Linked DNA regions of Homo sapiens: all the other regions are reported to be linked to region 3. The links are microRNA targets in miRTarBase. Many come from high-throughput screens and were not tested one by one. Region 3 holds a microRNA gene; each other region holds the end of a gene's coding sequence.
Evidence for each region. Region 3 holds the annotated microRNA hsa-miR-938 (UGCCCUUAAAGGUGAACCCAGU, at 1,921-1,942, opposite strand). A microRNA usually pairs through its seed, bases 2 to 8, with sites in the 3' UTR of a target mRNA and lowers its output. Matches are read on the target gene's strand: a 7mer-m8 pairs with bases 2 to 8, a 7mer-A1 pairs with bases 2 to 7 and ends in A, and an 8mer does both.

Region 1: the mRNA of NUBP1 is a reported target of hsa-miR-938. Seed matches in the 3' UTR shown: 7mer-A1 at 3,611-3,617.
Region 2: the mRNA of FAM180B is a reported target of hsa-miR-938. Seed matches in the 3' UTR shown: 8mer at 3,197-3,204.

What each region holds. Positions count from the first base shown.
Region 1 is chr16:10,768,777-10,772,915 of GRCh38, reverse strand. NUBP1 (NUBP iron-sulfur cluster assembly factor 1, cytosolic) reads right to left here. Exons shown (of 11, transcript NM_002484.4): 11 at 3,565-3,869. The coding sequence ends at 3,811. TVP23A (trans-golgi network vesicle protein 23 homolog A) reads left to right here. Exons shown (of 8, transcript NM_001079512.4): 6 at 1,118-1,246; 7 at 2,585-2,644; 8 at 3,815-4,139. The coding sequence ends at 2,644. Among named protein-coding and RNA genes, the nearest start is that of NUBP1, 27 kb to the right of the region's middle.
Region 2 is chr11:47,587,752-47,591,890 of GRCh38, reverse strand. FAM180B (family with sequence similarity 180 member B) reads right to left here. Exons shown (of 3, transcript NM_001164379.3): 2 at 4,070-4,139; 3 at 2,697-3,852. The coding sequence ends at 3,457. C1QTNF4 (C1q and TNF related 4) reads left to right here. Exons shown (of 2, transcript NM_031909.3): 2 at 1,076-2,224. The coding sequence starts at 1,081. The coding sequence ends at 2,070. Among named protein-coding and RNA genes, the nearest start is that of FAM180B, 3.1 kb to the right of the region's middle. RefSeq lists a silencer at 2,483-2,683.
Region 3 is chr10:29,600,391-29,604,529 of GRCh38, forward strand. MIR938 (microRNA 938) reads right to left here and starts at 1,956; the gene lies at 1,874-1,956. The region is part of intron 1 of SVIL (supervillin); the gene reads right to left.

The DNA of each region.
Region 1 (4,139 bases), not on the chromosome of region 3:
GTGAGACCTTGTCTCCAAAAAATAAAATAAATACTAAGTGTGGAATTCAGTGGCTTCTAGTGCAGTCACAGAGTTGTACAGCCAAAACCACCATCAATGTTAGGAAATTTTCATCACCGGAAGAAGCCTTGCGCCCTTTTGACATTGCTTCCCTGTGCTTCTGTTCCTCCAAGCCCTGGCACCTATTAATTTTTCTGTTTCTGTGGATTTGCCTATTCTGGGCATTTCATATAAATGGACTCACACAGGCTGGCACAGTACCTCACATCTGTAATCCCAGCACTTTGGGAGGCTGTGGCAGGTGAATCACCTGAGGTCAGGAGTTTGAGACCAGCCTGGCCAACATGGCAAAACCCTGTCTGTACTATAGATACCAAAATTAGCTGGGCGTAGTGGCACACGCCTGTAATCTCAGCTACTTGGGAGGCTGAGGCAGGAGAATCGCTTGAACCCAGGAGGCGGAGGTTGCAGTGAGCCAAGATCGTGCCACAGCACTTCAGCCTGGGTGACAGAGTGAGGCTCCGTCTTAAAAAAAATCAATAAATAGAGAAAACAAAATATTTGTAGATAGTAAAACAACAGTGTCATTTAATGAAAGTGCGGGCCCTGGAATTTGGATCCCGGCTCGACCACGCTCCAGCTCTGTGACCTTGGGCAGCTTTCGTCTTCCTGAGCCTCAGTTTCCTCTTTGTAAAATGGGATGATGATGGTGGCAACCTCTCCAGTTGTAATGATTCTGAGGTGTCCGTGGGTATTTGCAAATGCTCAGTAAATGTTGGCTGTTACTATTCTTAGGTGCAGGCTAGAGCATTTCTACGTGGCTTGAGAGGTGCATTTCTGTAAATGCTCTTAGAAAGTGACCTTTGCGTCAGATGGAGACCATCCTGGCTAACATGGTGAAACAGTGTCTCTACTAAAAATACAAAAAAATTAGCCAGGCCTGGTGGCGGACGCCTGTAGTCCCAGCTACTCGGGAGGCTGAGGCAGGAGAATGGTGTGAACCCGGGAGGCGGAACTTGCAGTGAGCTGAGATCGTGCCTCTGCACCCCAGCCTGGGCGACAGAGCGAAACTCTGTCTCAAAAAAAAGTGACCTTTGCTTTCTTTGTCTGAGTGCAGGCTCTGGTGGTTGCTGGGATCTCTCTCCAAGCTGCAAACCTGTATGGCTACATCCTTTGTAAGATGGGAGGCAACAGTGACATTGGCAAGGTCACAGCCAGTTTCCTGTCCCAGACAGTGTTCCAGACGGTGAGTAACTGAGGTCTGACTCTTGGACCACTCCTCTCCAGGTAGTCAAAGTCAAGGTGGCCTGCTGGCAACTGCGGTTTGTAATGTAACATATCCGCCAGGCTGCCAATGTTTTATTGTTTATATATTTTTTGGGAGACAGGATCTCGCTCTGTCACCCAGGCTAGAGTGCAATGGTGTGATCGCGGCCTATTGCAACCTCCATCTCTTGGGCTCAAGCGATCCTCCCACCTCAGCCTCTGGCACAGTTGGGACTACAGGTGTGTACCACCATGCCTGGCCTTTTTTTTTTGTAGAGACGAAGTTTTGCCATGTTGCCCAGGCTGCTCTAGAACTCCTGAGCTCAAGCAGCCCGCCTGCCTTGGCCTCCCAAAGTGCTGGGATTACAGCCATGAGTGAGCCACTGTGCCTGGCAGTTTTGTTTTTTAATTGTAAGATTTACATAAAATGTACCATTGTAACCATTTTAAAATGTATAGTTCTGTGGCATTAAGTATAACCACTTTATTGTGCAACCTTCACCCCACCCAGCTCCAGAACTGCTTTCATCTTGCAAAACTTAAGCTCAGTACCCACAAAACACTAACTCCCCCTCCTCCTCGCCTCCTAGCCCTAGCAACCAGCATTCTGCTTTCTGTATCTATTGGTTTGACAGCCCTAGGGACCTCCTATAAGTGCAATTATAGTTTTTGTCCTTTTGTGACTGCCATTGTTAGTTTTCAGTGATTTTTAAAAGTATAGAATTAAGGAAAGAGTCACAAACGGTTTTTCAATTTTTTTTTTTTTTTTTTTTTTTTTTTTGAGATGGGAGTCTCACTCTGCTCCCAGGCTGGAGTGCAATGGCATGTGTTGGCTCACTGCAACCTCCGGCTCCGGGTTCAAGTGATTCTCCTGCCTCAGCCTCCCAAGTAGCTGGGATTACAGGTGCATAACACCATGCCTGGCTAATTTTTGTATTTATAGTAGACGGGGTCTCTCCATGTTGACCAGGCTGGTCTCGAACTCCTTGCCTCAAGTGATCTACCAGCCTTGGCCTCCCAAAGTGCTAGGATTACAGGCGGGAGCTACCGTGCCCAGCTTGTTTTTGTTTTGTTTTTTTTTTTTAACTTAATAGATATTTCTAAAAGTGAGAGACAGAAGTCTTTGAAATTTGACCAGGTTCATCCTGAAATGGGTAGAACCGTCCTAAATTTGAACAGCACTGCTTTATGCCAAGACATCAAGCAACCAATTCCGCAGGTTTTCTGTACTTTGTGGGTTTTCTCTGGCCTTCCATCAGCAGGATCGCCCCACTCGCGTGTAAGGACAGAAAACCATGGTTGACTTTTCCCCTTGCAGGCCTGCCCAGGTGACTTTCAGAAGCCTGGCCTCGAGGGGCTGGAGATTCACCAGCATTAGGTGAGAAATGGATCATGGCACCCGTGTGGAGGAACTGGGGAATTCTGAAAAATGCAGCTCTTGGGGCACAGGGGCCCGGGGTCTGGGTGGGCTTCCCCTGTTCCCTGGGGTGGCCAGGCATGTGACCAGGCAGGAAGCAGACTGGGCAATGGGCCTGCCCTGGGCTTTGCAGCCTCATTGCTCTTGGCGTGAGGAGCTGGGGGTCGGGGGGCGAGGTCACACCTTCCTCACACTGAACATGTGCAAATCTGATCATATGTATGGTCCTAGGGAAGGGCGGGGAGGGAAGAGACAAGGGAGGGAAAGAACAAGGGGATTTGTTCTTGTTTCCCACCCACCCACTTTTATGCCCCAGAGTGGAGGGAAAACAGGAATTTACTCTTCTCCCACGTGGTCTCAGATCCTGTGTGTCTCAAACAGAGCAAGCACCTCATGGCAAAGAGGATGATCGTAGAGTTTACATCTGTCCCTCTTTTTTATATAATTAAAAAACCTGAAAGTTGGTTTGCATGACACTGGACATTACTGGATATACTGTGCACATATTACTACACAGGGAATTTACACAGACCCCACATTCTGTCTTACTGGGTGATTCAAGGACTCTTCAAGGGCTTTTTGATTTGACCCAGCTGTGTCATATGCAGTGATTTTAGAACGAAGCCCAGCCTGAGCTCTGTTGCTTTTAGATTTTTCCTCAATCTGAAGAAAAGCGTTTGGACTGTGGTGTTTGAAAACAAGCCTGTGTGTTCTGCAGTGAAGCCGCACACTCACCCCTTTGGTTCTTTTCTAGGCTTTCTTATCTTCACAGGCAGAAATGGCTTAAACGGGAGTTTCTACAATCGACTAAGCTTCCGACACAGCAGAATCCCACGATCCCACAACCCATTTGTTTTTTACGTGAAACAGGCCTCGGGGGAGAGATTTGAGGGGGTTTTATTCTTAAAACGGCACATTTGTAGAGAATGCCCTTTATATATGTTCTAAAGAAAAGTGTACAAATACTCAATGATTAAAGTGTCTCTGAGAAAGTGGCTTCGGACCACACCAGCATCTGGTCCTTTTGCTGTGACCCACCCCATCCCGGAGCTGGTCGGGTCTGGCTGGATGTGCTGCCCAGTGAGTGCCTCGCTCGGTAACTGCTTGGTCCTGAACATTCTCTCGTTTCAGGAACTGATGAGGTTCTCTTCTTTTGACTGATGGAGATTACAAAACTCTTGGATTCCTGGAAAACAAGACGACAGGCATAGAGTGCTAATGGCTTGTCTACCCCTTGACAGCCCTGTCCTGTGCTGGGGAGGGCTGTGTTTTGACAGGGGTGGAATCCTCTGGCTAGTTCCATAAAAAGACCTGTGTCTGTGATGCCCTGAGTCTTTGAAAGTGACCGGAATACCTCACACTACCCATCTTGCTCATAACCAGTGGCTGCGGCCTTCCTCGGACCATCTATAGATGGAGGATTCTGGGAATGCTGTTTCCTTACCCTTGACATCAT
Region 2 (4,139 bases), not on the chromosome of region 3:
GGACCATAAAATAACCACAGGAAAATGCAGCCAACTGGAGCTGAGGGGAACTCAGAGACTCCCCTGAATCCCCCGGGTTACCAGGGCCCCTGAGTGTCAAATGGGAGGTGTAGGGGCAAGCCCAGCAGACAGGGCTGTAGGCCTCTTTAACCAGAGTGTTTCTGCTAGTCTGTGTTCAAGCTTTCACTTAAGAAAGGGGTTTCGGCCGGGCGCGGTGGCTCACGCCTGTAATCCCAGCACTTTGGGAGGCCGAGGCAGGCGGATCACAAGGTCAAGAGATCAAGACCATCCTGGCCAACATGGTGAAACCCTGTCTCTACTAAAAATACAAAAATTAGCTGGGTGTGCTGGGTGCAAGCCTGTAGTCCCAGCTACTTGGGAGGCTGAGGCGGGAGAATCGCTTGAACCTGGGAGGTGGAGGCTGCAGTGAGCCGAGATCAAGCCACTGCACTCCAGCCTGGCGACACAGCCAGACTCCGTCTCAAAAAAAAAAGGGGGGGGGGCGGGGTTTCAAGGCCAGGCGCGATGGCTCACGCCTGTAATCCCAGCACTTTGGGAGGCTGAGGCAGGTGGATCACTTGAGGTCAGTTCAAGACCAGCCTGGCCAACATGGTGAAACCCCGTCTCTACTAAAGATACAAAAAATTAGCTGGGCGTGATGGTGCGCACCTGTAATGTCAGCTACTCAGGAGGCTAAGGCAGGAGAACTGCTTGAACCCGGGAGGTGGAGGTTGCAGTGAAACGAGATCGTGCCACTACACTCCAGCCTGGTTCACAGAGCGAGACTCCATCTCAAAACAAACAAACAAAACAAAGAAATGCAAATTATCAGGCCCATCACAGACCTACTGAATGAACTCTGGTGATGGGGCCCAACTATGTATGTTTGAACACGCCCTCCAAGTGACAGTGAGGCTCGCTAGAGTTTGAGAATCCAAGGATGTAGGAAAATTGAAACCTACTTGTGGGTCAAGGGCAGGGCTGGGAAGAGAACCCTTGTCTCCCGGTGGAGAGCCGGGCGTTTGGAAGCCGCCCCTGCCAACACTCCACTCTCGCCCCTCCGTCTCCCTCCCAGGCGCCATGCTGCCGCTTCTGCTGGGCCTGCTGGGCCCAGCGGCCTGCTGGGCCCTGGGCCCGACCCCCGGCCCGGGATCCTCTGAGCTGCGCTCGGCCTTCTCGGCGGCACGCACCACCCCCCTGGAGGGCACGTCGGAGATGGCGGTGACCTTCGACAAGGTGTACGTGAACATCGGGGGCGACTTCGATGTGGCCACCGGCCAGTTTCGCTGCCGCGTGCCCGGCGCCTACTTCTTCTCCTTCACGGCTGGCAAGGCCCCGCACAAGAGCCTGTCGGTGATGCTGGTGCGAAACCGCGACGAGGTGCAGGCGCTGGCCTTCGACGAGCAGCGGCGGCCAGGCGCGCGGCGCGCAGCCAGCCAGAGCGCCATGCTGCAGCTCGACTACGGCGACACAGTGTGGCTGCGGCTGCATGGCGCCCCGCAGTACGCGCTAGGCGCGCCCGGCGCCACCTTCAGCGGCTACCTAGTCTACGCCGACGCCGACGCTGACGCGCCTGCGCGCGGGCCGCCCGCGCCCCCCGAGCCGCGCTCGGCCTTCTCGGCGGCGCGCACGCGCAGCTTGGTGGGCTCGGACGCTGGCCCCGGGCCGCGGCACCAACCACTCGCCTTCGACACCGAGTTCGTCAACATTGGCGGCGACTTCGACGCGGCGGCCGGCGTGTTCCGCTGCCGTCTGCCCGGCGCCTACTTCTTCTCCTTCACGCTGGGCAAGCTGCCGCGTAAGACGCTGTCGGTTAAGCTGATGAAGAACCGCGACGAGGTGCAGGCCATGATTTACGACGACGGCGCGTCGCGGCGCCGCGAGATGCAGAGCCAGAGCGTGATGCTGGCCCTGCGGCGCGGCGACGCCGTCTGGCTGCTCAGCCACGACCACGACGGCTACGGCGCCTACAGCAACCACGGCAAGTACATCACCTTCTCCGGCTTCCTGGTGTACCCCGACCTCGCCCCCGCCGCCCCGCCGGGCCTCGGGGCCTCGGAGCTACTGTGAGCCCCGGGCCAGAGAAGAGCCCGGGAGGGCCAGGGGCGTGCATGCCAGGCCGGGCCGGAGGCTCGAAAGTCCCGCGCGAGCGCCACGGCCTCCGGGCGCGCCTGGACTCTGCCAATAAAGCGGAAAGCGGGCACGCGCAGCGCCCGGCAGCCCAGGCCCCTGCGCTGTCTTGACTGCGACGCATTCGCCGGCGGCAGGCGGGAAGGTGCTGACTACTGCGGGCCCGCAGGCCCGGGGAAGGGGTTGGAGGTTGGAAAGCAAGGTCCCCTTGGACCCTGGGAGGGTGAGGAGGTGGGAATTTGATGGAACCACATTCGCCTAGTCCGTTGGGGGCCTCCCTTTTATATCCCTACCTCGTCTAGCCCTCTGACTCATCATTGACCTACGACCTCAGCCTTAGCCCCCGGCTGATGCCTTTCTGTGACAAGGAACAGCACCCCATTACCCCACAGGGTGCATGGGATTCAAGGAAACAGTGCATTCCTTCTTCCAGCAGGGCGTGGGAATGAGATGAGGAGTTGATACCTGGTTGCCCTGACTCTTGCCTTCCCGGGATGGGGAGAGTGATTTGCCCAGAGCAGGGGTTAGACGCTTATTCCGACATAGAATGACACAGGCTCCAGGAGGCCGAAACAGAACATTTTATGAGAAGAGCAACACAGAATCAGGGCCACACCTGCTCCAGCCCACCTCCGCTTGTCTCTCCTTGGTCTCCCAGCCTTACTCCCCCCTCTGAGGTATTCACCCGACGCTTGTTGAGATATTGCCTCCCTACCCCAAAAGAGATAATGTTCCTCCCTCCCCCTGCTTCCCTCCACTCTTCCAACTGACAGAACTCAAAAAGTCGATTCTCCCAACCCAGATGGGAACTTGGAGGCTCAGAGACCCCAAATCCTTGGTTGTGCCTAAAAGGGGATGCTCAGCACCTAGAGGATTCCTGTGAATTCCACAGGACCTGTCACAGACTGCCAGGGTAGGAGTTGGAAGGTCTGACCAGGCCTTACTTGGGGCAGCTTCCCTTCAGCATCTCTTGAACACACTTCTCAACCCTGACCCCTGATCTCCACACACACACACACACACACACACACACACACACACTCACACACACACTGCCTGCAAGTCGTGCCCTTAGCTCTGTGCCCACTCCTTGCGCACTCCTTGCGACCCAGAGCCTGGGTTCTTAGCCTCTCAAGATCTAGGAAACAAGATCTGGTCGGGGTAAGCAGAGAGGGGGTGTCCAGGGTGCAAGCCAAGCCCAGAGATCTGAACACGGTGAAAAGAATCAGATGCCAGACAGAAGCCCCTGCGCAAGATGGGTCTGCCTGGGGGGTTGAGGAGGAGATGGGAGGGGGTAATGGCAGGTGAAAGAACAAAAGAGGAGGGTCAGGGGAAGGGGTCAAGGATGGAGGCCCAGGACCCCAGGGAAGGGGGCCGGTCCTGGGGGCAGAAACCTTTGCACAGGTCCCAGAGTGTTTCCTGTGCCAGGAGAGCGAAGACCTGGGCCCAGCGGCCCCGTTCCTCAGCCTCACTAGCTGCGTGGAGCCGGTAGACGCAGGACAGGCCTGTGAGGAGCAGATGTTCAAAGTCCCAAGTGCTAAGAGGAGGCCCCTTCCGCAGGTCCTGGAGCTGCTGCAGCCACTGCTCAGTGCCCTCCAAGTCACTGGGCACGTGGTGCTGCAGGAGGAGTCTGAGTCGGCGGCCTGGGTGTGTGGACGCTAGTTCCTCATCCTGGATGTGCAGCTGCCCCATGACATCCAGCTCCAGCCCAGCCCAGAGCAGCTGCAAGGGGAGCCATGTAAGGGGTGGGCTGTGGCCTGGGGAGCAGGGCAGGGAGCAAGAGTGGGCTGGGGGAAGGGGCAGAAGCAGGCAGCAGGACGCATGCTGGCTTGCCCCACCCAACCCTAGCAGGTCCACCCTGAGACATCCCCCTTCCCAACCCTGAGCTTAGGGACCTCTGGACGTGCCCACCCCCATGTCCCAGGCTGGGAGGAAAGACCTCAAACATCACTTCCGGGGCCTCTGGCTCCTGCAGGCCACCTCCCACGCTGGTGCTGTCCATGGGCTGC
Region 3 (4,139 bases):
GCCCCTCACCACACCCAGACATACGGCACCAGAATCTCTGGGTGGGACCCAGGCATGGGAATTTTTTTAAAGTTCCCCAGGTGAATCAGCGTGCAGCCCAGGCCTGTTGCACCTCCACATCAGATGGAGAAACACACAGGTTGGCTAAGGTGCTGTCAGTGGCAAAATCAGGACTGTAAGAACTCACCATTTTCTTTTATAAACAGCAGCATCATTTACATAGTAAAGTTTGTCACTTGGGGATGCATTTTATACACATATTATTAGAGAATAGGCAATTAACATTTTCTTAGTCCCAGAACATGAAATATTGGGGCACAAAAGGACCCTATGCAAAAACGAAGGGGTAGAATTGTGATGAGAACAACATTCAAACAAATCCTGTGAACCAGGAGAAGGACCGAAAGACTGTTCTAACTAAAACCCCACAATGGCATCTCTCTTCAAGGGACCCGTGCTATGGGACCACTTATCTGATCTGAAGTATAGTCAATACATATGATTATGAAGTTCCGGGTTCTTTCTCACACTCAGTGGTGAACAACTCGCTTCTAGAAGTCAGATTTAATAAAACCACATACATAGACACTCCCTGGTGTCCGCGCGGTTTTAAAACCACTTTTCCTGGCTCCATTTCTCCCTGTCATTAATATACATAACTTATGTGCTGACTTGAAAGGTTTGTATTTTGTTGTGGTTTTCATCCTATCTCAGAAATATGTGACTACAATTATAGACATTGGTCATCCAAGAAAAACAGCTAATGATACCAGCATAAATAAGTTCCTAGAGCAAAAGCATTGAAAAAAAATTTCCCCCTGGATTTTTATTTATTCACTTTGCTTTCCAAAATGCTACATGCCACATTTTAACCTAAAACCAATGTACACATCAGTTTTACCCAATTCCAGAGCTGAAACTGAAAATTATAAAGCTTAAAATGTGCTCCTCTGTATCTATCAACAAGATGCTTCTAAATCGTTATTAGGGAGAATAATGCATTAATGCATTCTTTCTTTAAAAGTAGAAATGTGTTTAAACTGAACTATCCATATTCTTTCACCATAGCATCTAGCCACTTTTGTCCCCAGTTCTAGGAGAGGTTTAAGCCTGAGGCACAATTTGCAACTACTATATAGAATGAGGTTCTTGCCATAGGCGCATTTCAGGATTGAACCTGTGGCTTTCAGCTCTGATGCAGAGAGAAACAGGTGACTGACGGCCTACCATAAATGCAAAGAACAGCCTGGAGAGTAAGAGCCTGGGCTCATCAGACATGAGTTCAAAGCCCAGCTCTAGTGCTTTTTAGCCATGTGACTCAGGCTAATTATCTCCTCTTCTAATGACAATGACTTTAAGGTTGTTCTAAGGATTGATGACATTCACATTTGTAATAGTGCACTCCGCACCATGCAGGCTTCTGATTCTGCTACCAGGTGGCATCATCTCCTGCTCAGCACCGGTTACCTCTTTCCTCTCCCTCTCTCTTTCTTCTCTTCCTCATTATCTGTACTTTTGTCCATTTGATCATTATTCAGTTTGTTGATGGCTGAGTCCTTTATTCTCCTAATTGTTTCTCTTTGTACCAGTTCATTGCTTGTTGGGATCACCACCAGTTCGATTTAGCTAAATGTTGACACAGTATTTGGTATCTACGTGAAAGATTTGGCAGTGATCTTTCAAAACATGGGGCCCTGGATTATTAGGTTATATTTCAATATTTTGCTTTTAACAATTTATGGAGCTATTGGCAACTCTAAACACCTACAAAAGAAATGCTGTCCACGACAAAAGAGTTCTGATCATTTTGCAATGACTTAGGAGAAACTTAATGATGTTTCATGAAGTGCCCCCTGGTACTTTAAGTGTTCATGAAGGCATACCAAGTTCTTAAAGGTGTACCACGGTTCATGAAGGTGCACTGGGTTCACCTTTAAGGGCACATGGTACACCTTCCAACATGCCGTACCTGCTTAACCTGCCTTGTCTCACCCTCCCTTCTCTGCTGTGGGACAACCTGGATCCCAGGCCCCAAAGGCTCAGAGGTATTACATACACTCTTCCATAAAAGGCCTGGGCAGGTGAAGTGTTCACTGCCAGAATGATTTGGGGGAAGAAAGAGAATGCAAATGTTTTTATTCATGATTATAAATTCTTATGAAGTCAGGCCTTCTATGAAAATCTATAGACCTATCAATCATGTACATTTGTAAACTGCAGCTTTCAAGTGGCTTTGCAATATAATGTTTAAAGATGCAAATGGTCAAGCCTGAAAGAAGACTAAATATAATTTTTTTAAAAAAGAAAGGGAGAGGCCGGGCGCTGTGGCTCACGCCTGTAATCCCAGCACTTCGGGGGGCCGAGGCAGTTGGATCACCTGAGGTCAGGAGTTTGAGACCAGCCTGGTCAACATGGTGAAACCCTGTCTCTACTAAAAATACAAAAATCAGCCAGGCGTGGTGGCAGGCACCTGTAATTCCAGCTACTTGGGAGGCTGAGGCAGGAGAATTGCTTGAACCTGGGAGGCAGAGGTTTCAGTGAGCCATGATCACACCATTGCATTCCAGCCTGGGCAACAAGAGAGAAACTCCATCTCAAAAAAAGAAAGGGAGAGGTATATCAGTTGTTTTAAAATCGTTTCATGCCCAGGAAGATGATAATGAAGGACTTCTTACCATCCTGACGACTGAAACTCGAGACTCCTTCCCCTTGCTGGATGTGTTTTGCTTTGGAGGTAAATAAATAAAAGCAAGTGCAGAACAGGACAAGGCTGTGGCCATGCATGGTATTTAGTCCCAGCTGGGAGAAACGATGTGAAAGATCCCCCACAAACCCTGCCCTCCCCCCTCATCCTCGTATCACAGAGAATGAAAATGCAAATAAGATTTCCAACCCTTTCTTCTTTATAAAGAAGAAAAAGAGAAGCAGGGGGAGAAGTTAGTAATTTTGTTTCCTGAAAGACTAAAAATAGGAATCTCTGTATTTCCAAGAAAGAGTTCTGTGGGGCATGCTGTGAAGCAAATAAAATGCTGTATGTACTCATATGAAGCTTTTAAAGCAAAAATGGAAAAGCATTCAGTGAGCAGATGCTTGAAATTTGGTCTCAACCACAGTGAAACAGCTCTGGCTCCCAAGAATTATAATTTATGGCCAGACAGTTCATCTAATTTCTTCACCTGTAGGTTGAAAGCATACTTGGTTTTCAAATTTAATAGAGCAGCTGGCTGGATCATGAGGAAGGTGATGAAATGATATAGGAATGAGCAAAGGGACCCTGCCCTCTCAAAGTGATCACAGTATCTTACTTCATGGAACTACTCACCCAGGGCCGGCCAGACTACATTCTGAACAAAACAGATATTGAAAAGAGCATTTAATGGGCACCTAAGGCATATGTTTTCAAATGACCTAACTGTTATTTTTGGAATTGCATTCAATTCATATAAAATTAGGCTGCTAATAGATGTCATACATAAAGTCAGGACTTGATCCGCAAAGGTGACTATGTAATAAGCCCACAGTACAGTCTTTAAAAATCCAATTTACATTTGTAATTTTTTGACTCATGTGATTGAATAAAGTTAAAAAGTGGCAGAAGAATATTTCACAGTGAAATATTTCCGCCCCCTTCCCCATTTCTGAGGTGCCAGTTACAGTAGTCGCCCCATGTCCATCGCTTCCTTTTTCAAGGTTGCAGTTATCCATGGTGCAGTACAATAAGATATTTTGAGAGAAAGAGAGGCACCACATTCACATACCTTTTATTACAGTATCTTACTAGAATTGTATTTTATTATTTATTATTGTTCCTCTTTTTTTTTTTTTTTGAGACAGAGTTTTGCTCTGTCACCCAGGCTGGAGTGCAGTGGTGCCATCTTGGCTCACTGCAACCTCCACCTCCCGGGTTCAAGCAATTCTCATGCCTCAGACACCTAAGTAGCTGGGATTACAGGCATGTGCCACCATGTCTGGCTTTTTTTTTTTTTTTTTTTTTTTTTTTTGGTATTTTTAGTAAGAGACAGGGTTTTGCCACGTTGGCCAGGCTGGTCTCAAACTCCTGGACTCAAGTGACCTGCCCACCTCGGCCTTCCCAAAGTGTTGGGATTACAGGCGTGAGCCATTGCGCCTGGCCATATTGT